Regions from separate parts of the Homo sapiens genome. Here all the other regions are linked to region 3. Evidence: fine-mapped expression QTL. A gene starts in region 3. Each other region holds a variant in brackets. All regions are shown on one strand. Distances are between the middles of the regions. Region 1 has its middle 25 kb from the start of DOK2. Region 2 overlaps DOK2 (docking protein 2). Region 3 holds the start of GFRA2 (GDNF family receptor alpha 2).

Region 1 (8,180 bases), 100 kb after region 3:
AAAAAAGAAAAGAAAAGAAAAAAAGAAAGGAAATTCTGGGCTGTGTGCTGTGGATCACATCTCCCAGCACTTTCGGAGGCCAAGGCTGGAAGACTGCTTGAGCCCAAGAGTTCAAGACCAGATTGGACAACACAGTGAGACCCCATCTCTAAAAAGTTTTTTTTCTTAATTAGCCTGGTGTGCACCTGTAAGTCCCAGCTACTCAGGAGGCTGGGGTGGGAGGATGGCTTGAGCCCAGAAGGTCGAGATTGCAGTGAGCTATGATTGCACCACTGCACTCCAGCCTGAGTGACAGAGTGAGACCCTGTCTCTAAAAATAAAATTTTCAAAAAAGGAAATCCTGACATATGCCATGACATTGATGAACCTTGAAGACATTATGCCAAGTCAAATAAGCCAGATGCAAAAGGACAAATACTGTATGATTCCACTTATATGAGGTCCCTACAGAAGTCAATTCACAGAGACAAACAGTAGAATGATGATTACCAGCAGCTGGAGGGAAGGAAATGGGAGTTGTTGCTTAATGGGTACTGAGATTCAGTTTGATATGATGGAAAGAGTAATGGAGATGGATGGTGGTGACTGCTGGGCATTATGAATGTATTTAATACCACCGAACTGAACACTTGAAAATGGTCAGGATGGGCTGGGCGCAGTGGCTCATGCCTATAATCCCAGCACTTTGGGAGGCTGAGGCAGGTAAATCACTTGTGGTCAGGAATTCAAGGCCAGCCTGGCCAACATGGTGAAACCCTGTCTCTACTAAAAATACAAAAATTAGCTGGGCATGGTGGCACGTGCCTGTAGTCCCAGCTACTCGGGACACTGAGGGAGGAGAATTGCTTGAACCCAGAAGGCGGAGGTTGCAGTGACCCGAGATTGTGCCACTGCACTCCAGCCTGGGTGACTGAGCGACACTTAGTCTCAAAAAAAAAAAAAAAAAAAAAAGTCAGGATGGTACATTGTATGTTGTGCATATTTTATTACAATAAAATAATGGAAAAAAAATAAGTCAGATTCCTGGCTTCTCTACTCAAACTCTTGCCTAGGCATTTAATATGGAATAAATCATTCTTACCCAGGTGGGACTGCCAGGACCCCCTGCCTCTCCATTCCTTTCCTGCCTCTTTCCTCTCGTCCACTCTGCCCCAGCCTCGCCGGCCTCCTCCCCTGTTGCAAGGGAAGCGTGAGGTGCTCCTCCTGTCCACTCGCCGCTCACTCCGCAGGGAATGTTCTCTCTCCCCTCAGCCTGGTTTATTTTTCTTCTTATCACTCTCACCACCTGGCATATCATCTGCTTCCCCTCCCCCGACCCTAGCACAGCTCTAGGAGAACAGGGACTTCTGCTGCTTCTGTTCATGAACGTGCTCAACAAGGGCCTGCCTGTCCCTCTGACATGGTCCTCCTGGAGCTGCAGCTGCCCCACTGTCTCAGGAGTACAGAATTTCCTCCTCCTCCCCAGTCCCCACACCTGGCCCACCCTTTCCCTTTGTTCTTCTGCCTGTGCTGCCAGTGACGAGCCTGTGAGACCAGACACTGAAGAGAGCAGACAACCAGGGACACAGGAGTCTTTGTCCCCAAAAGGATCTCAGTAAATGTTGGCTGCTTGTAAAGAATCTCTGCGGTGTTGATTTTGTGGTCAATGAGGGGCTGTTTGCTCCTCCTCAAGTGCACCCACCCCCACTTCAGGGCACCTACTGGCCCCAGAACCAAGTTACCAAAGGCCCATTTAGGCCCGAAGGATGCCACTTGCCTCTGAGAGATGAGGGGAGCTCACAGCCTCCTCGTAGCCCCATAATGCAGTATTTCCCCAAGGAGTCAGGTCTCACTGGTGGCCCTTGGACAGGCATTCAGTGGCATTGTCCACACCATGAAAAAGTTCTCCCTTTTCAATGCTTTTTCAAACACCCTGTCATGGGTTGAATTGGGTCCCCCGCAAAAACAGAGGTTGAAATCCTAACCCCTAATACTCAGAATATGACTTTATTTGGAAATATTATAGGATTGTTGCAGATGTCATTAGTTAAGGTGAAGCCAGACTGGAATAGGTAGACCCCTAAGCCAATAGGCCCATTGTCCTTATAATGAGAGGAGAGCCCTGTGAAGACAAAAGCACTCAAGGAGAGCTCGTGACCAGGAAGGCAGAGATTCCAGCTAAGGGGCTGCGAGCCAAGGAACACACAGAATTGTCAACCAAACACCAGAAGCTGTGACAGCCAAGGAGGGATTCTCTCCTACGGTTCTCAGAAAGTGATGGCCTGCTGACACTTGGATTTTAGAATTCTAGTGTCTAGAACTGTGAGACAACAAATGTTTGTAGTTTCAAGCCACCCAGTCCATGGCAAACCTGGGAAGCCAATACAGACCCTAATGACCTCAGGGAGGAAGTCTCACTTGGGGGCTTGCGGGTTTTTCATGCCTTTCTGATACTTGCTAATTTTCCTTTTTGCAAAGAGAAAACAGTCCACAGGCTAAGAGCTTTCAGCAAGAGAGGCACCAAACTAAATTTTAATAACCTTGTTTGGATTCCATTGTATGTATTTGTATGATTACCATCGATTTCTAACAAGTGATAACAGGTTTTCCTTGCACAACAGTAAAACAAATTTCCTTTTCAAAGAAATAAACCAAGTTTAAAAATGAGTTAATTTAATGAAAAAATATTATGTCACATTAATAGAACTGGCGAGAAAACATGGCAAAAATAGTGAATGTGGGGAAGGTAACTAAAGTTTTTCATATGCCATCTTGAAGAAATCCAAGACCAGATAGCCACTGCGCCTCTTCCTTTCATGTCCCAGATCATAAATGCAAAAGATTAAAATGAAAATGACAACATATACAATGATTAGAAAAAGTACAAAGTGGGCAAAATTATTTGCACATTGGTCTTACCTTTTTCCCGTCTTCTCCCCTTCTCATTTGCCTTCCCTCACCTGGAGGCCCAGGACCTGCATCCAGCCAGGCTTCTTCCTGTCTCCAAAGAAAACCGATATGGCCGGGCACTGTGGCTCACACCTGTAATCTCAGCGCTTTAGGAGGCCAAGGCTGGAGGATCACTTTAGCCCAGGAGTTCAAGACCAGCCTGGGAAGCACAAGGAGACCTCTCTCTACCAAAAATTTTAAAATTAGCCAGACACGGTGGCACATACCTGCAAGTCCTAGCTGCTCAGGAGATTGAGATAGGAGGAGGATTGTGGAGCCAGGGAGTTCCAAGGCTGCATTGAGCTATGACTGCACCACTACACTCCAGCCTGGACAACAGAGTGAAATGAAAGAAAGAGAGAGAGAAAGAGAAAGAAGGAGAGAGAGAAAGAAAGAAGGAAGGAAAGAAAGAAAGAAAAAGAAAGAAAGAGAAAGGAAAGAAGGAAGGAAGGAAGGACAAAGAAAGAAAGAAAGAAAGAAAGAAAGAAAGAAAGAAAGAAAGAAGGAAAGAAAAAGAATGAAAGAAAAAAAGAGAGAAAGAAAGAGAGAGAAAGAGCGAGGGAGGGAGGGAGGGAGGGAAGGAAGGAAGGAAGGACAAAGAAAGAAAGAAAGAAAGAAAGAGAATGAAAGAAAGAAAAAAGAGAGAAAGAAAGAAAGAGCGAGGGAGGGAGGGAAGGAAGGAGAGAGAAAGGGAGAAAGAGAGAGAGAGGAAAAGAAAAGGAAAGCAAATCTGATAAACTAGCCTCCACTGAGCTTGCAGTTAGAGAACTCAGTGACAGCCCCATCATTGTCACTAACGTGATGAGTGACTTTGGGCAAATCCCTTAGTCTCTCTAGACTTCAGTTTCCTCTCTACAAGAGAAGATAAGACAACAGGGTATCTTTTTGCTCAGAATTCTATGCTTCTGGGATGTTAGCAATTTAATGTGTTCCCCTCTTAGGGACTCACATTACACTTTAAAAAAGACTTTAGTAAAAAGATGAATAAATTCA[G/A]AGGAATGAGCCCCCAAAAGTGAAATTCCAGGTTTAGTGGCATGTGGGGGAGAGAGATTTTTTAGGATGGTTGGGTGAGGCAGTTGTAAAATCACACAGTCAGCAACCAGTAACTGCTGCCTCTGCATGAGGCCGGCTTCACCTCCAGATGGTAGGCCTACCGCTGTCTCAGACCCCCTCGGGCCCCACGAGGCCTGCCCTGACCCCTTGGGTGGCCTTCCATTCCATCAGGAATCAGGAAATCATATCTCTGATAGGGATAAATACTGCATTTTTAATTTTTGAAAAGCAAAATATAGGTATTTATTTACATTCATGTCCGTGTATACACACACACACACACACACACACACACACACACACACAAACACAGTTGGCGACAGGAAAGGGCCAAGAAGAAAAATCAGCTTTGACAACCTAATAAATGTCAATTTCTGAAGGGGGCTGAGTTAGAAGATGAATCCTCAGAACTTTAATTGGAGACATGATGCTCTCACTTTGCCAGCACCCCCACCTCTCCCGATCCCTCCACAGATAGCAAAGCCCTTGCCTTCCTCTAATTGACAAGAGGCCTCTGTCTGCTAGGATTTGCCTCTGGGATGTCAAGAGGCCCAGGGATGGGGTGAAGGTGGTGCTCTAATGCCCTTCAGAGAGAAGAGGTGAAATAGCAGGATTTGTGTCCCAAAGGCAGACAGCCCAATGGGCTGAGCAGTCACAGATTTGCCCTACGCTGTGCCTGCCCTACGTGAGACCCTGCAGAGACAAAGGGGTCCCCCCTGACTAGTGATGCTTGCTTTCCACCTAACAGCAAGTCAGGAGGCTCCCTTTGGATCCCCGGTGGTACCCTAATCCAGGCACAGTGGGAGAAAGGGAAAGCACGTGGGGGAGGTGGTGGTGTGTGGTGGTTGAGAGGATCGCTCCCCAGCCCGGCTGCCTAGAGTCACCACCAACTGCTGATCTTTGGGTCAAGTGTTTGACTCTTCTGTGCCTCAGTTTTATCATCTGTGAAAAGGAGACCATCACAGCACCTGCCTGAATGCATTGTGAGAGGATCAGATGGGTTAATCAGGGTGCAGCAGCCACACACACTCATGCCCAACAGGAGACTTAATGGTAACAGCTCTTCAGCTCAGCACAGCTGCCAGAGCTTTGGAGCCAGCACTCCTGGGCAAACTGTGGAGTCTCAGCACCATCACCCAAACAAGCTGCATGTCATGCGTGAGACAGTTCAGCTGTGACAGGCAGCCATCACAGTGATCGAGCTGGGCAGGAGAAGCAGTCATGGCCACCAACACCTGGCCCACCACTGCATTCTGACCATCACTTTCTAGTAAAACACCGAGGACCACTTTTCTTTTGAGATCCCCACTCTAACTTCTGCCCCTCCAGAACCCACAAGCATTCTCCTTTTGGCCTCCTACAGACTGTAATCTTAGCCATACAATTTAGCTCATTTTTATATTAGTAATAGTTCAAGTAACTAGCATCTGCACAGTGCTTTGCAGTTTACAAAGGAATGTTTAGTTTACATTTTTGAATTGTTAGTACACTGACATGGCTCAAAATTTAGAAATCTGTATTAAAAGGCAGTTAAGAGTCTCCCTGTTACTCTCATCTCCTATCCTTCCCGACCCCAGCCTCGGCACCCACAGGTAACCACTGTTTTTACTTCCTCAGAGATCCTTCTAGAGTTTCATTCTGTATGCATGAGTAAATATTTCTATTTCCCCTCTTTTTATTTTATTTTATTTTTTTGGAGATGGAATCCCACTACATTGCCCAGGCTGGTCTCCAATTTCTGGCCTTAAACGATCTTCCCTCCTCAGCCTCCCAAAGTGCTGGGATTATAGGTGTGAGCCACTGCACCTGGCCTCTCTGCTTTTTAAACACAAAATGTAGCATGCTATCTATACACACTGTTCTGTGCCTTGCTTTTCTTCATTTGATGGTATGTCTTATACACAAGTACAAAGCTTTCTGTCTCCTTCCTTTTTATAGCTGCATAATACTCCATTGTGTGGGAAAACAAAATATCTTAAAGAGAACCCTCTTACCCAGCATTTACGTTCTTTTCAATATTTTCCCATCACAAACATTCTGTAACAAGTAGCCATAAACAAATCCTTTGCACTTACGCAAATGTATTTATAGGACAATTTCCCAGAAATGGATTGCTAGGTCAGAAGATATGTACATTTAAACCGTGGATAGATATTGCCAAACTGCCCTCCCTAGAGGTTATACACATTTATCTTCCCATGAGAGATAGGAGACTATCTATTTCCTTACAACTCCACTATAACTGTGTTACCAACTTCCTGGACTTTCTCCAATTGGATAGGTGAAAAAGTTGCTTATTGGTGTAATTTTAATTTACATTTCTCTTATTTTCAATGAGGTTCAGCGTGCTTATATACATTTAAGAGCTATTTGTATTTCCTTACCCTAAATGTACTTTGCTAGCCGTTTATCTCCTTTATCTTCGCAATCCCCCAGTGAGAAATGTGAGGTAAGTATTAATAATATCTGCATTTTAAAATGATAGAGCTAAGACTCGAAGCATTTAAGATACTGGCTTAAAGCCTAGGCTGGTATGGCAGGGGCGAAATACCATCTTGCATTTTTTTCTGATTGTTTTATGTTTGGGATATTCCCAATTGAGTGGTGCATTTCTTATCTGCCTTCAAATCGTCCCCATGAACCTAGAACGGCGCTAAGATGTAGCAAAAGAGTGAGCCAGGGGACCATGGGTCCCTAGCCCTGGTTTCTTGCTGTGGCTCTGTGAGTTACTGGCTGTCTGCCTCTGGTCAAGTCCCTTGACTCTTTCCCTGGAGAAGACTCTTTATGGGCGGACTTTCCATATCTGTAAAGCCAGGATTTGAACTAAATCACCAAAGTCCCTTCCAGGAAATGATTACAGTGGGAAGCACTCCATGAGTCTTTTATTATTATTTCTTTTTGAGCAGAGGAAATAAAACCGTTTTCAGACCTCCCAAGATGAGAATGTTCAAATCATACCCGTTTATGTGAATGCAGTCTAATCAGAGGCGGTGAGTGAGGCAGCAATGGGAAGGGATTAGGGGGTCTTCAGGCAGTATTGCAAAGTGGGGAGGCTGTCACAGTGGTATACTACAGTCTGCCTGTACTGAGAGCCGACTGCAAGATCTTTTAGGAGTTTTGTAAGCCAATTGACATCCCATTGATAGCTTGAAATAGGCCACGGTGGGAATATTTACACCATGGAAATCAGTAAATGCTACATGTGATAGCATTCCCATCTCCCACACCCAGAGCCAGTTGTTCACCAGTATTCAGCTGCCATCACATCGCTCCCCGAGGATCTACAAAAAGCCATAAGCGGCCGGGCTCAGTGGCTCACGCCTGTAATCCCAACACTTTGGGAGGCCAAGGCGGGAGGATCACCTGAGGTCGGGAGTTCAAGACCAGCCTGATCAACGTGGAGAAACCCCATCTCTACTAAAAATACAAAATTAGCCGGGCGTGGTGGTGCATGCCTGTAATTCCAGCTACTCAGGAGGCTGAGACAGGAGAATTGCTTGAACCCAAGAGGCAGAGGTTGCAGTGAGCCGAGATCGCGCCATTGCACTCCAGCCTGGGCAACAAGAGCGAAACTCCATCTCAGAAAAAAAAAAAAAAAGTCTTAAGCAACAGGAGCACTGGAGAATTGACAGGACTGTCGGGGAGCATGAAGGGTTCTGGGAGTGAGAAGAGCTCACACAGGCCAGAACCCTGCTCAGACAGGGGCCACTGGGCCACACCCTACCTTAGCCAGGAAATCAGTAGACCCCAGCAGTCCACGTCACCTCCAAGGGTAAGAGCACTGACCCCAGAGCAAACTGCAGGGTTTCCAAATCCCTGCTGCCCACATAGAAGCTCTGTGACCTTCAATAAGTTGCTGAAGTGTCATGTCTCAGGCTCCCCATCTGGAAAATGGGGACGTAATAGCCATTATCCCTACCTCAAGGGGTTTTTGTGAAAATTAACGAGTTAACACATAGGATGCATTTAGAACAGTAAACGTCTGGCATGATCAAATGCTCAGTAAGCAATTGCTATTGTTATTCTTTTACTAGAACCACAGGGTAAGACTGCACTGAGAGTCCTGGGGGCCAGGTTTCTGGTCCTCCCTCTGTAGCTGTGGGATCTGGAAAAATCCTCTTTCCTGCTCTAGGCCTGTTTTGCTACCAGTAAAGAAAGGGATTGGGGCAGATCATCACCAGGATCCTTCCAGCCCTTCC
Region 2 (8,158 bases), 120 kb after region 3:
CAACTGCAGGTCCTGCTCTAGACCATTCTCACCCTCTGGGGGCCCTGGAGACCTCATTCACTCCAGTGATGCCTCACCCCACGGCATCTGCATTTTAAAAGAAGCCTGCTAGGAGAGGGAAGGCACTCTTCCCAAAATGTAAATGGTGGGATTCTTGGCATCTGTAGGGGTGTATTTATGGAGAGAGAGTCCTCCAGAGCACCACAGCTCATTACACACTGGAGATCACCTGTGTTCCTCAAAGGCAAAGTGGGCTTCGTTTATTTTTCCAATCAAGAAACAGTTATTTGTACCTACCTAGTGCCAGGCATTGTGTTAAGTGTCAAGGATAGAACAATGGACTGGGTAAAGTATGAACCCTGCCCTTTGAACATTTGCAGTCTAGTAGGAGAGATGGCAAACTCCTTCTGAATGTTCTCTTGGCTCCTTTCTGCCCACCCCCTCCCCAGCTTCCTCCTCTCAGAACTGTTACTGTTCCCAGGGCTCCTCTGGCTGGCTGCAGGGCAGCGGCCCCAGGGGTCTGCATTGATCACATCAGTTGGTGAGCCCTGCCAAATGAACCAGGTACTTCTGCCCAGCAAGGAACCTGCCTCTGCACCCCGATGAGCCACCTGCTGCACCGTGCATGGATGTGGCAGCTCAGATGAAAGGAGGAAAGCCCCCGCTGTGGCTGCCTGTTCTCCAGCCTTGCCTGAAGCCAAAGGTCTTCTAGTCTACGAAGCATCTTCCCTTCCCGGCTCCCCCATTCCTGGGCATAATAGGCCACTCGAGCATTGCTCTGCCCTGGTGTGCAAATTTGCCCCCGCTAAAGCCCCCATGTCCAGCAGCTGAAAAGCTATTCATGCTGCTCTCTTCACCTCTCCTGAAATACTCTTCCGCTTTTGTGCTTTCCTATCAAAAGCCTAGCTCCTTCCCAACCAAGTCCTTCCACCCGCAAAGCCTCAGTTCACCCTCCAAAGACAAGGAGGTCTCTGCTCCTCTATGCCTCCATTGCCTTGTTGGTAAGACAGGGATTTCTTGCCTTGCCCACCTGGCAGAGCTGTTGAAGGTGAAATGAGATCATGGATAATCCCGGAGCTCTGTGTGTGGCAGGCACTCTTCTCCGAGCTGGGCATTTATTCACTCAATTTCATCCTCACCACAAGCCTTCAAGACACATATTATCATCATCTCCATTTTTCACATGTGGAAACAGATGCAGCTACCCAGAGACACAGCTAGCAAGTTGCAGAAGCAGAATCTGGACCCAGATAGTCAGGCTATGGTCTGTGTGCTTAACAGTCCACGCTCAACTGCCCCCAAAGCAGTTTGGAAACAGAAAGCGCTGTATAAACTCAAGAACATTCTTATCATCCTAAATGCTGGCGCCCCCTCCGGCACACCTTTCACTCCACCCCACCCACCCCTCCCCGATCAAACACCTGGACGCACAAGGCCAACCCCGCCCTGGATGCAGGTCCCCGAATTACTTAGCAGAGCACTGAGACCCCATCTCCCTCACAAGTCTGTCAGAACCCAGTGCTTCCCAGTCTGTTGCCCTACTCCGCCCCCGACCAGCCATCTCTGGCTCAGGGATCCAGGAGCTAGAGTCAAGAAGAGGGTTCTGACCAGGTATAGTGCCTCACACCTATAATCCCAGCATTTTGGGAGGCTGAAGCTGGTGAATGGCTTGAGCTCAGGAGTTTGAGACCAGCCTGGGCAACATGGAAAAACCCCGTCGCTACAAAAAAATACAAAAAATTAGCTGGGTGTGGTGCATAGCTGAGTATGGTTGGCAGGTCTGTCCTGTAGCCCCAGCTACTTGGGAGGCTGAGGTAGGAGGATCACCTGAGCCCCGGAGGTCAAAGTTGCAGTGAGCCGAGATCACACCACTGCACTCCAGCCTGTGTGACAAAGCGAGACCCTGTCTCAAAAAAATAAAAAGCAGGCCGGGCGCGATGGCTCACGCCTGTAATCCCAGCACTTTGGAAGGCCGAGGTGGGTGGACAACCTGAGGTCAGGAGTTCGAGATCAGCCTGACCAACATGGTGAAACCCCATCTCTACCAAAAATACAAAATTAGCCGAGCGTGGTGGTGCATGCCCGTAATCCCAGCTACTCGGGAGGCTGAGGCAGGAGAATCACTTGAACCCAGGAGGCAGAGGTTGCGGTGAGTCAAAATCATGCCATTGCACTCCAGCCTGGACAACAAGAGCAAAACTCCATCAAAAAAAAAAAAAAAAAAAAAAAAAAAAAAAAGCACAGGGTTCCAGAGGTGGCAGGGAGGCAAGGAGGAGAGAAGCAGGCCTGGCCAGAGCCTGGAGATTGATGGGTTCTGCTCCATGCTGGCCGGCATTGGATCCGCCCGGGAGCTGAAGATGGGAGCAGGGCAATGATGAACAGCCTCCTGCCATGGGGAAACCAGCTTGAGGCCTAATCAGATCAGATACCCCCTCCCAGCTCCTCTGGCTCCTCTCCCTCCTCCTCACAGCTCACGGACCTCCCGCACTTACTTCCCAGCCCTGTCCTGCCTGAGGTCTCCAGCCACCCCAGCTGGTTTTATAAATGGCCCTTGCAGGCTGTGGGCACCTTGGCTAATTGAGTCTGCACCCACGAGGCAGGAGGCAGGAGGCTGGTTAGCATCACGGATGAAAGGCAGTGACAGCAAAAACTTGACTGGAGTCGTCAGGGAGGAGCCTGCGGGAGCAGAGAGAGCCAAGGAGCTGGGCCTTTGTAGATTCTGAAGCTCCAGGGGGAGAACTCACGAGGTGGGGAGTGGGGGGCGGCCTGGCCACCCCCACTGTCACAGGCTTACACCATGGACCACAGGCCAACACACACACACACACACACACACACACACACACACACCCCACTTCTCTGCTTTGGAAAAAGAAAATCCAAGGGGAGGCAAGAGAAGCAGAGCAGAAAAGGAACGGGAAAAATGATGTTGTGTGCTGCGTGCGCACATCTCTATGCTAGATGCCAGTCATGCAGCCATCCTTACCTGCCCCGATGTCACCTCTGCATAATAACTAGCAATGAAACCAGTTTATAAGAATCCTGGTCACAGCAAACCTCATGGTGTCAACAGCTGTCTGACTTCGGACCTTGGAGCCTTCAAGAGGCCCTTCTGGGTGGATCAATCACTTGCTGTGACATTGCCCTGTCCCCTTTTGAGGGCAGCTGTTTCCTTACATATGAATTTGCCCCTGAGCATCCTGGTGGCATAGAAACCCTCCAAGGAGGCCCGGCGTGGTGGCTCACGTCTGTAATCCCAGCACTTTGGGAGGCCGAGGCAGGTGGATCACCTGAAGGCAGGAGTTCCAGCCCAGCCCGGCCAACATGGTAAAATCCCGTCTCTACTAAAAATACAAAAAATTAGCCAGGTGTGGTGGCGGGTGCCTGTAATCCCAGCTACCCAGGAGGCAGAGGCAGGAGAATTGCTTGAACCTGGGATGTGGAGGTTGCAGTGAGCCGAGATCTTACTGTTGCACTCCAGCTTGGGCTACAAGAGCGAAACTCCATCTCAAAAAAAAAGAAAAGAAAGAAAGAAAAGAACCCTCCAAGGAGGCCCTCACCACCGTGTGTCTGTTTGAGAAGGGTGATCCCTCAAGCAAGCTCCTTCATTCCTGTGTTCAGTGAACATCTGCCTGCCCACTCCACACTGTAGGCCCCTCGAGGGTGGGATGGGTCTGTGCTGCTCCCCAGCTCCTAGGCGGGACTGGTCCATGACAGATGCTCCAGGGCATTTGCTTTTTTGTTGTTTTTGTTTTTGAGATAGGGTCTCACTCTGTCCCCCAGGCTGCTGTGCAGTGGCTCAATCACAGCTCACTACAGCCTCAACCTCCTGGGCTCAAGCAGTATTCCCACCTCAGCCTCCCAAGTAGCTGGGGCTACAAACAAGCACCACCATACTCAGCTAATTTTTAATTTTTCTGTAGAGATAGAGTTTCCCTATGTTGTCCAGACTGGTCTCAAACTGCTGGGCTCAGGCAATCCTCCCACCTCGGCCTCCCAAAGCACTGAAATTACAGGCATGAGCCACCATGCCTGGCCCATGACATTTGTTGAATGAAGGAAGGTACACATTACAGATGACCATGGCGCAGCTGAGGCTGGCTGTAGTGGCACTGACACCATTCTCTGGAGGGTGGCACACCCCTTGGATCAAATCTTCTGAGAGCGACCCTGATGGCATGATCAGCATTTTCTCAACAACTGTCTTAAGGACTTTCATTACCCCTCCCAACTTCCCCAAAAGCTACTTCCCCTGTCCCTCCAGCCCTCACCCCACCTTTCCCAAGGGCCCTAATCAACCACTTCCCCTTGCATGGCACAGA[A/G]AGCATTAGTATGGAAGAACCCAAGTCCCTAGATCTGGAAAGTGGCGAGAGGGGACGAAAGGGCAATGTCCAGCTTAGGACCCCAAACTTCTTGAAGGCAGGGTCCACACATCTGGGAGTGGGATTCTGAGGCTCTGAAGGGACAAGCTCTGACATGCAGATTCCTCAGATTATCCCCAAGCCCTTCGGGTAGTAAATGCCTTCCTTCAGGGCCAAGCCCCCAAGGCTGGTGGTGGCAAAGCCCCCCAGTGGCCTTTTCCACAGGCTAACACCGCCCCCTGCCGGGCTAAGCCAGGACAGCCACTTCAAATGCCACCTTAGGAAATCGGAAACGTGGCTACCTTGCCAAAGAGAAACCCCAACTCCCACTGCTGGCCTGAAGAGGGGGAAGAGTAAAATCCTTGGAAGTGGGGCCTTCCAGCCTTTAGTGATCCAGAGGCTGGAAAGGGAGGGTACCAGGGGGCACCTTCCACACAGACAGGAAGGCCCCTCACTGGGTCTCTCCAAGCAGCTGATCCATTGCTCAAGTTCCTTCAACAAGGGAAAAGGCCACGGTGAGAGGAGAAACAGAGGTCACAGCACACCTGGGAGGCCAACGTCCATGTCTAAGTCTACGCCCCTCTCCCTCCTAAGCGCTAGCTCTCCCACCCAGCTTCAGGACTCGTCTTGCCGGATCAATACTAGCCATCTCCATCTCATCGCATCAGAAACTAAGTTCATCTTGTTCCCAAATCCTGAGTCTCAGGCCGGGCACGGTGGCTCACGCCTGTAATCCCAACACTTTAGGAGGCGAGGTGGGCAGATCACTTGAGGTCAGGAGTTTGAGACCAGCCTGGCCAACATGGTGAAATCCCGTCTCTACTAAAAAAAAATACAAAAATTAGCCTGGCGTGGTGGCTCACACCTGTAATCCCAGCATTTTGGGAGGCTGAGGTGGGCAGATTACCTGAGGTCAGGAGTTTGAGACCAGCCTGGCCAACATGGTGGAACCCCATATCTACTAAAAATACAAAAAATTAGCCGGGTGTGGTGGTGCACGCCTGCAGTCCCAGCTACTCGGGAGGCTGAGGTGGGAGAATTGCTGAACCCGGGAGGCTGAGATTTCAGTGAGCCGAGATCACACCACTACAGTCCAGCGTAGGTGACAGAGTGAGATTCTATCTCAGGAGGAAAAACAAACAAACAAAAAAAAACCCGAGTCTCTCTAGAAACCCTCTTTCTCTGTGTTCCACATCCACTATGAGTCCAAGATCCACAGGTGCTAGCTCTACACCATCTTTTGAATCCAGTCCTTTCTGAACTTCTCCCTTTCCCACTTTTCTTGAGCCAGGGTCTTGCTCTGTTGCACAGGCTAAATGATTCTCCAGCCTCAGCCTCCCAAGTAGCTGGGACTACAAGTATGCACCGCCACACCTGGCTAAGTTTGTTTGTTGGTTTGTTTGTTTTTATAGAGACGCGGTCTCATCACTATGTTGCCCAGGTTGGTTTCGAATTCCTGGGCTCAAGTGATCCTCCCACTTTGGCCTCCCAAGTTGCTGGGATCACAGGTGTGAGCCACGGTGCCCAGATGAATTTCCCCTTTTCTTTTTCTTTTTCTTTTTCTTTTTTTTTTTTTTTTGAGACGGAGTCCTGCTCTGTCACCCAGTAGGGTGCAGTGGTGCAATCTCAGCTCACTGCAAGCAATTCTCCTGCCTCAGCCTCCCAAGTAGCTGGGATTACATGTGCCCACCACCATGCCCAGCTAATTTTTGTATTTTTAGTACAGATGGGGTTTCACCATCTTGGACAGGCTGGTGTTGAACTCCCGACCTCATGATCAACCCTCCTCGGCCTCCCAAAGTGCTGGGATTGCAGGTGTAAGCCACCGTGCCTGGCAGAATTTCCCCTTTTCAATTCAGCCCCAACCTACCCCCTCCCACCCCAAGTCCACCTTCCACAGGGCTATCGGGTTATTGCCCTAAAGCTCAGCTTTTATGGGACTCCCTGTTCAAAAGCCTTTAGTCGTTCCACCTTTCCCTCTAATTAGGTACAAATTCCCCTTAATACAGTCAGAATCTGCCTTCCCAACTAGATTGTGTCACCTTACCCGCACTCTGAGCGTAGAACTCCGTCCCGAAAGCAACACATCCGTACCTCCCCGTGGTTTCACCTACACTCCCATTCCTATCCAAGATGCTCCTTCACACCCCCTTTATCTCCATGGAACTCCTTCCCACCCGTAAATGCCCACCTTAAATGGTACCTTTGATATGAAGCCTTTCTTGCGCTCCCAACAAATAGTTACCTCTCTGGCACTCATGGCCCTGTCTGGTCCCTTGTGGCACTCACACCCACTCTGTGACAGACACCTGTGCCTTGTTTCATCTCATCCCCTTCTGGGCAGTGTGTCTCTCACAGGCCATGCAGTCTACAGCCTCCCACAAACAGTGCCCATGCTGTCGGCGGACTGGGTTGATAGCTGAAGTCCATGGACACACCCTACTGGGAAAGCAGGTTTTGATAAGAGGAGCAAGCACAAGGACACAGGCTGACCTGTGGGGAAATGGTGTGTGGGGACCTAGGAACCCAGAGCCAATGGGAATCACAGAGCTGGATGGCTCCTCCTTGCCCACATGGGGCAACCCCCTCATTTTATGAAGATGTGCAGAAATCTCAGGGAAGCGAAAGGGCCCAGGACCACACACCTGGTGACTCCCACTCCTGGTGTACAAGAGGCTCCATCAATCCAATTATTTCCTTCCTTGCACTTTGGCTCGCCCCCCGCTCCCCCGTGCTTCCCCCACCATTTTTCTGACATTGACCTTCTCCCAGCAAAAGGGAGACATACTTGAACACTATTCCCAGGGCACCCTGACTGACTTCTAGAGGCCTCTGTGAGCAGATGCTTGGGGCTCAGCCTAGGCCCCAGGGGGATCTTGCAGCTGGGAGAGGATGTGATCAAGGTTGGTCAGTTGGAGACTTCACTCCCACAGCATTCATGCCACACAGAAATGTTCTGAAAATGCTTTAATGCCACCAAGAAATCTGAAAGGTGCAGGAAGCTGCCGCCATCCCCCTGGGTGCCTGGGCCCAGGCTGTCCCTGAAGTGGCCATCAGCAGGCAGGAGGCTTGCATAGCCAAGCAGCCCAAGCAATTGCTGACATCCTTTTGTCCTCTGCCCTAAATGCCCCAGGTTCCTCCTCAGCTGGGGAAAGAAAGAGGAGGAAGTGGAAAAAGAGTAGGAGGAGGGTGGTTCTCTCCAGGGCACCCTTCCTGCTTTGGGATGGTGACTCACCCAGCAGGCCCTGGGAGAGGCAATTTATCAGCCCCAACGAAGACAGGCCAGGCCTCGGGCTCCAGAAGGGGCAGAGGAGGTTCTTCTGATGCAGTGGCCAGGAGGAGTCACCAGCAGAAGCCAAGGGGCGGTGGACCATCCCTCTGCTGCCTCTGTCACTTTGGGCCTTTCTTTAGTACAACATTGTCATACTCAGTTCCTGGCTGCCAGCCAGAAGCAGAGAAATCCTGCCCGGCTGGCTGGACATGCTGGAGGCCAGCAGGGTCCCTGTCAGCTGTCGCCTGCCTCCTCCATGCCTCACCCCGGGGCTCCTGCGGGCTGTCATAGAGGGACAGGGCAGCCACTCCCTCGGGCTCATCGTATATGTGGTCAGGTCGAGGGGGCAGGGTCTCCTCAATGCTGTCGTACAGAGGGTCGGCCAGGAGCTGAGGAGGGACTGCCAAGATGCCCCTGAAGTTCTTCCCCAAGGAACGGGCCACCGCATCGAAGGGCACGGCATACTCCCCCTCCTGGCCCCGAGGCCGTGGAGCAGGCACCGGTGTGGTGGGTGAAGGCGGCGGCA
Region 3 (8,149 bases):
AGAATTCCCCATCCCTACCCAGAACAGCCACTCTCAGGCCATCCCCCGGGAGGCCCTGCTCAGGGGAGCGCTACCGCAGGGAGACAGCGACACCTAAAGGCAGCGCGCTGCACAGCGGGCCTTCGCTCCCGAGAGCCCCCAGAGAACAGGAATCCATCCACTCCCGGTGGGACCAGCCAGGAGACCCATCCCTAGGGGACAACAGAGAAGAACAGCAGGGATGGGCCTGGGGTACAGAAGGCTTCTTCGGGGCCCAGAGCAAAAGACGTGCCCTTCTCCCACTGACCAGACCTCTGCCACAGAACAGGAAGGCTGATGGATGTGGCCAGGCTGAGACAAGACCAGAGAAGAAATCAGACCGGAGTTTGAGGCCCGGCACTGGCTGGAGAGCTGTCCTCCACACAAGCTGAGGCAGCGTCTTTCTTCCCCGGCTTCAGCAGATTCCTACCTCCCTGAGCAGGACCCGCGTACAGCCGGGCCCCCCAAGAGCAGCTGAGTTGACACGGCCCCGCCTGTACCTGCGGCCCCCAGCCAGCCCGTGGGAGCCTCTGGAAGAATATAACCCTGGGCCCTCCACTGACTTAACCACCCCGCCTCCCCATAGGCTAATGCCCTCCCACCTTGACTGAACTGAAGGCTGCACTGTCATGGGGGCCTGGAAATGGAACTTCCTGGCTTCCTTAGCCTTCTGTAGGCACAGAATTCACCGCGTGCTTAAAGGTCAGAAGATTAGCCCAGGGGATTCAGGGCATAAGGACGCTTTTTTTGCTTGTCCTACAGTTGGGCCTAGAGCCCCACAGGATGATCCTTACACAATCTTAGGGAGGCTCCCGTGCCAGAACTGAGGGCTTCCCCCATCCTGCCACCTGGCACGTGTGGCCAGGCAACAGACACACTCTGCGAAGGGCCGGGGCATCCATTCACCAAACCATCCTTGACTCTTCTAGTTCATTCCATGACCCCCAGAACCAATCAAGCCCAGCCAGAGAAAGGAATCCCTGCAGCCTGCAGCCTTTAGCTAAGAATCCTAAGAGAGTGAAGGGCAGGGGGTGTCCTGGTGATGTTTCCAAATCCTAAATTAGGAGAAAACTTTGATCCATCAAGACACAGGGAGTAGCTGCTAGAGACACAGGGGTAGAGGGGGGTGGAGAAGCGACACAGGGCTACAATTGCCCTACTGCATCCAACATCCCACCAGAGCTAGAATGTGTGCTAGAAAGTCAGTCGGAAGTGGCCCCCTCTGGCCAGCCCAACACCCCCACCCGAGTCACTTTCCCCTTCTCCTTCTCTCCCTGGGTCAGCACTGGAGGTCAAGATACTGGGCAAGAAAGGCCTCTCTCTCCACCATGGGTTATCCAGCCCAGACCTCACTCAGAATCTCAGTAGGGGCACACCAAAGGCCTTTGCCCCCAGCTGAAATTGCCCACCAAGTCTCAAGCCCCAGAAAAACCTCCCCCGACCCTCCACCCACCCACCCAGTGGGATTTTCAACCAGCTTCCTGCCAGGAAAAGGGCCCCAGGGCTGAAGTTTCCTAAACACCAACCCATCCCTTCCTTTCCACTGGCCTAACCCAAAGCCTTTCAGTATCTGTGGTCACTCCACTCAGCCCAGCTTTAGAAGGGGACTTCTCGAGGGAAGGAAACTGAAGGGCTGTGGAGCAAGGGGATGCTGAGCCTGCTGCTCTTCTGCTCTCACCCCCGCCTCTCAACACTCAGCCTCCAGGGTTGCAGACATTGGGTTGGGCCTCTCTGGTCATCTCCCATGCACACACATACACACCCACCACGAGCAGGAACCCCAGCCACTTCTGAAAAGGAGAAAGGTGGACTCCTTAGCCTGCCCGGCTGGAGAAAGCCTGCCTGCAATGACCAGGGGCCCACACTGCTCTTCTCCAGCCCCCGACCACAGATGGTGCCCACACCTGGGAGCCCTGCCCATGCTGGGGTATGCAGCTCAGCAGTAGGCAATCTGGCTGTTTTGCCTGAAATACAATTTTTTTTTCACCTTGGCCCTGATCATGCTTGGACCCAGAAGGCTGGGTTTTCAAGCTAGCAGTGGGAGAAAAAGGTCAGATTTTATAGTAGCCCCTTCAGAATGAGAGTCCACTTGCCAGGGTTGACAGGAAGGGCTTCGGGATCACAGCGGGCCCAGAGCAACTTCCAGCTTCCTAGAGGAGCCCCTCCCACCCCAGAGAGAAGCTGCCTCTGGCTGAGGGAGGTAGGACCTCTGAGGCCACACCCTAGAGCAGGGACTTGCCCCCTTGGGGACTCGCACCTGGCGGGAAGCAGAGGGGACAGGCAGAGAGTCCAGAGCCTGTGTGGACACCCAATGACTCCGGTCCCCTATCCTAGTCTGGCGAGCACTTCTTAGACCACGCACATCCTCCTGTAACCAGCTCCTACCTCCCCACTCGTGGCCTTCCCAGATCCCCTACTGCAGGAGGGAGAGGGTGAGATCATGACCCCGCTGGGCAGCCTGGCTCAACACTGGCTACACAGCAAGCCAAGGTGGTAGAACTACACCCTCACTGAAGCAGACGTGTGCTCCTTACAAACACACTCACACACACACACACATACACAGTAGTTACCCGGCTCCCTCTATGGGAGCGTCTACTCCCTGGCAGCAGCCCTGCCTGGGACTCCCGGTGGTGCACAGCCTTGCAAACAACCGCCTTTCCTCACCTCCCTCCGGAGATTGCCATTTCCCAAGCAGCTGCGATTTCACCTAGCTTTAAAGGGAGAGAGGAGCTGGGAATTCTGTGTGGAAAAGAAACTGCGTGGGGCTCAGTGGCGCCAGGCAGCCTCTCCTCCCTGTCTTGGAGGCGGCGGGGGGGGCAGTGGGGGGGGTTTGCAGAAGGAGCAGTGGTCTTTGTTCAGACCCGTTTTTCCTCCCTCGCCTCCCACCCTCTTCAACGGAGAAAGCAAACTTTGGCCTCCCTCCCGCCTCTTCCCACCAGCCACGGGGGTCCGCGGCCCCCAGAGGTGGAGGAGGGAAGGCCGGGAACGGCTGCTCACAACCCTCCGCTCCCGCCCACCCATCTGGCTCGGGGCTCGGTGGGGAGAAACTTGAAAAGTGTTCCGGGGAGTGGAGCCGCCGGTTAGGGGCTCAGGGCGTGGGGACGCGGGCTCCGTTTGCCAGGCGCGGCTGGCAGGTGGGGAGTGACTGCCAGCGCTCCCCGCGCGATGTCCAAGCGGGAGCCGCCGGAGAAACCCGCGCCCTCCACCACGACCGACTCGGGGAGCAGACCAGGAAAGGCGGACCCCGCAGGACTGTTCTCTCCCCGCCTAGGAGCCTCTCTCTCCCTCCCTTCTTGCAGATCAAGAGTTGGATATTTTTTTTTCTTAAGTTGCCGCAATTCGAACCCATTATTTCGGGGGAGATGCGCGCTATACTGGCGTGTGAGCGAGCGCGGGTGTGTGTGTGCGTGCACAGTGTCTGCGGGGCTGGTTCGGATGTTGAGTCTCCCTCCCGATCCCCCTGCGTCGCCAGCCAGCCGCGGCTCCGGTCCCTCGTCCGCGTCCCTGCCGCCCGGCCCCGCTCGGTTCGCCAGCACCGGGCCCGGCTAGCTCCGCGGCGCGCTCTCCCCGCCGACCTCCCGCCAGCCCCCCACCGGCGCTCCGCTCGCCCCCCGCCTCCCCGGCTTCTCGCCTCCCCCTCGAGCTCGCCGCCCGCAGGTACTCACCTAGAAAGAAGAAGAGGCAGAAGACGTTTGCCAAGATCATGTTAAATAAATCCCACCGTTTTTTTGTCTTTCTCCCTTGGGTAAAAAAAAATAATAGTAGTAACAACAACAATAATAATAGGCAAGCAGTGGTAATCAGCCCCAAATCCAATGCGGAGATCCCAGCTAGTCCACCCGATGAAGATCCCGAGTCCTGCGATTCTCGCCTCTGGCTGGAGGGGGTGGGGTGAGAGGCGGGCGATGGGCTGCTGCCTCTCGACGCCCCCCTTGCCCGCTACAATCAAATATACGCGTATCTGTGTATCGGCTTTCTAAGCCAACAGCCCAGTCCTGGGGTCAGCCCTCCCCTCCAATCGTCCGGGAAGGCGTGAGTCCCCGCGGGTCCAATTCCCCTGCGCTTCCCAGGAGGGGCCTGGGGAGGTGGGGAGAGAGGCGATTTGCGAGTGAAGGGCTGGAAGGAAGCGGCGAGGGAGGGGGTCGGAATAAAATGCAAATAGAAAAGAAATCCACAGACGGGTGTCAGCGCCCAAGAACAATCCAGTCGGAGCTTCGAGGACGAGAGACTGGAGTCGCTTCTTTCGCACCAAGACGAAGACAAGATTCAAAAAAATCTTCTCCCGCTAACCCTTGCTCGGCTCACTTTTTTCTAATGGAATTCCAGTGACCGTGTGTCTCTGCGTGCGTGTGTCTTTCTCTCTCCTCTCTCTCTCTCTCCTCTCCCTCGCTCGCTCTTTGCTCTCGCTCTCTCCAGCTCTCCCTCGCTCTCCTCTCTCCCTCCCCCTTCTCCCACTCTCCCTGCTCCTCCCTCCGCCCGCCCCCTTCTCCCTTCGCGGCTCCCTCGCCCGGGCTCTCGCGCCAGCGCCCCTCTCCTCCGCCCCGGGCTCGGCGCTCGGGCTCCCAGGCGGCTGGCGGCGCGGGGCGCGGGGCGCGGGAGCGCGGCGGAGCTACGATGCTCTGCAGCGGCGGCGGCGACAAGGCGAAGGCGGTGGCGGTGGCGGTGGCGGCGGCGGCGGCGCCGGGGATCGCGGGCCGAGAGGAGAGCCCAGCCGCCGGCTCCCTCGGCTCAATCGCCCGCCCTTCCTGGGACTGACCTGCTGCCTTGGCCGGAAACTGACTGGCTCCCCCGGCTACGGCTCGGGCTCGAACCCACTCAAGCGTCGGCACCCTCCTCCTCCTCCCCCCGCAGCTCTCCCCACCCTGGGGACCGGCTGCGCCCTCCAACCCCCACTGCCCCTGCCCCCGCCCCCTGCGCCGCTGGGTCTGGGAAGCCTGGGGAGCTGAGCTGAGGCTGGAGGGCGCGGAGTCCGTGGGGCCCGAGCCATCCGGGGGCTCGGGGGGCAGGGCGTTAGAAAAACCCCAGCCGGTGGCCCGGGTCTGAGGGGGGCTCCACCCTCCGTGGGCTAAGGCGTCCCTGCGCCCAGGAGCCGAGGCCGACAAAGCGTCTCCCCGATGGTGCCAGGGAAAGGAATTATCCCCTTCGGCGCCGGCCCCGCGCGCCCCCGAACCCAACGCATCCTGCCGGCCCCGGCCTAGCCCCGCGCGCACATACACGTGTGCTCTCCGCGCGGACCTCGGGAACTTTGCCCTCACGCCCGCGGCGCGCTTGCCTCCCGCCCGCCCCGGCCTCCACCCCTTCGAGATGCCCCTTCCCCAGCCGGTCTCCCCTCCCCCCGGCTCGGGAAGAAGCCTGCTGGGCCAGGGCGCCCTGACCACCTCCTCGGAGGCCGGCAAACCTGCCTGAACCGCCCCAGAGGAATCGGGCAGGGGCTCGCACCCCACCCCGGCAGGAGGGCCCCGAGACCGACCCGGGCCGGGGCTCCGCAGCCGGCTGGGCTCCGAGGAGCTCGTCCCGAGGCAGCTCCCGGCTCCCTAGGCTCCGGGGTTGGGGGGTTCCTCCTCCCCTAGCCGGGAAGGGGGCGATTGATCCATCTGTCGGTGGGCCGGGCTCACCGGCGTGTTTTAGTCGCAGAATTTACAATAAACGCCCAGAAGGACCTAAAAGGAAGCGTCTGGCTGGGAAAGGGCTGGAGGAGAGGTGCGGCTGCGGTCACGTTCCGGCGAGAGCGGGAGAGGCGCGGGGTCGCGGTCGCGCGAGGGCTCACACCCACGCAGCCCGGCATCCCCCGGCCCTCGCGCCACGTTCCTCGCACTCAGCTCGGCGCGCACACACGGTGTCCTGGGGTGGGGTACACGCAGCGCCTCAGAAACTTTTCGTGCTGCCCAAAACAATCTGGGCTGCACGTAACATGAATTTGATAGTACCGTTTAAGATGCATTCTTAAATAACAAGACTCTGGAATCCAGTAAATGCTAGAAATCGACTTGGACGAGAAGGGAGGGGTCACTAACAAAACCAGCAGCCTTAGCTATTGGGAAAGCTAGAGGGAGCAACTTCCATCTTGAGGATTTAGGCGGGAAGGCGGCTGCTCCCGGCCTTGGAAGCACAGAGAGCGAGTCTCCTGTGAACGCCTCTTTCCTGTGGTCCGTCCTGGGGCATCGACCTTCCTCCCTCCATCTTCTCCCCCAGCCATCCAGTTGTGCCTGCTTCGAGCCTAGGCCCTAGCTGGGTAGTGACGAGTCTGGGACAGAGGGCTTAGGGATTGGAGTTGGGGAAAGCCCCCTTCAGGCCTGCCCTCCCTGTCATTCCTCCAAGCCTCTCATGTTCTAGGAAGTGACTTCGCATCTGACAAGGTCTCTTGGCTTTTTTTCCAAAAATTGGGGAGCATAAGGAACCGGCTTTGGATAAGTGTAGGTTAAAAGATAAAACTTGACAGGAATTACACTGCCAGGCAGGCTTGGCCTGGAGGCCCGAGGCTGGGAGCCTGGCCTAAATGAATGTCCCCCCTCTCATCTCCTCGACTTCCAGGGTCTTCTGGTTGTCCAAATACTCCCCACCACCACCCATTTCGGAATCTCACGCAGGCCTTCCCCCTTCCAAGGACCCTGCTCCAAACTCCAGAATTTCTGCTCAGCATATCCCTCTCCCCTTCCCCACAAAAAAGAATTTCACTTTCTTTTAACTTCATTTGAGCATAATGAGAGAAATTCTCTGAATCATATATGTAGTTCTCCCCTCCCACCTATCCAGAAAATGGGGCTGAGAAAGCAGCAATGAAGCCCTGGGGATGGTTCTCACTGAGCTCCCACGGGAGTAGGAAAGAGGATTCCGGTAGCAGGAGGTAAGTGGCCCTTCTGCGACCCAAGACCACCCAGCCATCCCAAGAACAGTAGAGAACACCAATCAGTCACCACCAGCATTCAGCTTGTGTGACTGCAGGGCACTCTGACCTTGGACCCTCTCTTACCTACTGCCTATACAGACGTATCCCATGACACCCCACCCTCTGCCCACCCCAACACTCAACCCAAACTGCTCTTAAAAATGGCATCATCCCTTATTTCCTGAGCATCTGCCATGAGGAAGACCCCCTGCCTTGTGCCGGGATCTACAGAGGAAACACAGTTGAACATGTACTATAACACCTTATAGATAAGAGGACTTCTGAACCTCAGTCATCTCATCTATAAAATGGGGATTAAAAAAGATAAACCAACGTTGTAGAAATTACATAAGATACTACACAAAGCGGCTAGTACAATGCCTGGCCCATATAAAGTTGTTTACTGCTTTGCTCTGGGTTCTAGAAGAAGAATTAGGGACCTATGACAAGGCAATAAAACCTAAGGGGCAAATGAGAAGCAGAAACAAAAAGCTACAGGGGTTCAAGGGCAACAGAGACTATTAAGCAGCTGTCGTAAGAGGTAGTCATAGGAAAATGTGAAGTCTCTAGCAGGTAGGAGGCAAGCCCTAGGCTCACCAACAGACTTCCACACATTCCGTAGTGCCTGAGTCCTTTTACAGCCTTCCTGGCTCATTCCAGTGCTCCTGAGTTCACCAGCAGCTGAGCCTCCTGCCCACAGCCCCTCCCCATCACAGATCCTAGAGTCCAAATCTGCATGGGGAGGGAAAGGCAACACCGAATCCTTCCATTCCTTCCCTTTCTCTTATCTCTCTAGTCCTCTCTGCTTATGGAGTGGGTTCTCTGGATAGCAGGAGAGGGAAGAAGGACCAGTGGAGGGGAGGGCGTTGCAGCCCCACCCCAACACACGCACACATGCGCACCTAGGCCTGGGCCACACTGCTCACTGACCACAATCTTATTCCTTTGTGAAGGGAAGAAGGCTGAGGGTTCCCTGACCCCAGAGATAAAAATCGACCAGGAGTGAAAAGAAGGTGCCTCACATCCAGCTAATACTGTCAGGAGCCACAGAACTGGCAAGGTGGAAGTGTCCTCTGCCATGGGACAGAGCCTGATCCAGGGCACCCCACAATCAATCCATCAGCACAGACTTATTGAACGACTTCTCTGGCCCCAGCAGGGCCAACGGCTGTGGGGAATACAGCAAGACTGCCCCTCCCCTGAAAGCATTTATAGAGTCAAGCGTGTAGCTATGAGAAGATA

The links. PIP is the estimated chance that this variant, and not a neighbour inherited with it, causes the effect.
Region 1: its variant is fine-mapped to the expression of GFRA2 in whole blood (TOPMed, PIP 0.98).
Region 2: its variant is fine-mapped to the expression of GFRA2 in whole blood (INTERVAL, PIP above 0.99).

What each region holds. Positions count from the first base shown.
Region 1 is chr8:21,884,618-21,892,797 of GRCh38, forward strand. No RefSeq gene overlaps it. Among named protein-coding and RNA genes, the nearest start is that of DOK2, 25 kb to the right of the region's middle. The variant G/A (reference allele first, on the strand shown) is at 3,922.
Region 2 is chr8:21,901,560-21,909,717 of GRCh38, forward strand. DOK2 (docking protein 2) reads right to left here. Exons shown (of 5, transcript NM_003974.4): 5 at 7,314-8,158. The coding sequence ends at 7,752. Among named protein-coding and RNA genes, the nearest start is that of DOK2, 8.1 kb to the right of the region's middle. RefSeq lists an enhancer at 2,300-3,128. The variant A/G (reference allele first, on the strand shown) is at 4,323.
Region 3 is chr8:21,784,434-21,792,582 of GRCh38, forward strand. It overlaps GFRA2 (GDNF family receptor alpha 2), which reads right to left and starts at 4,442. Exons shown (of 9, transcript NM_001495.5): 1 at 3,687-4,442. The coding sequence starts at 3,726.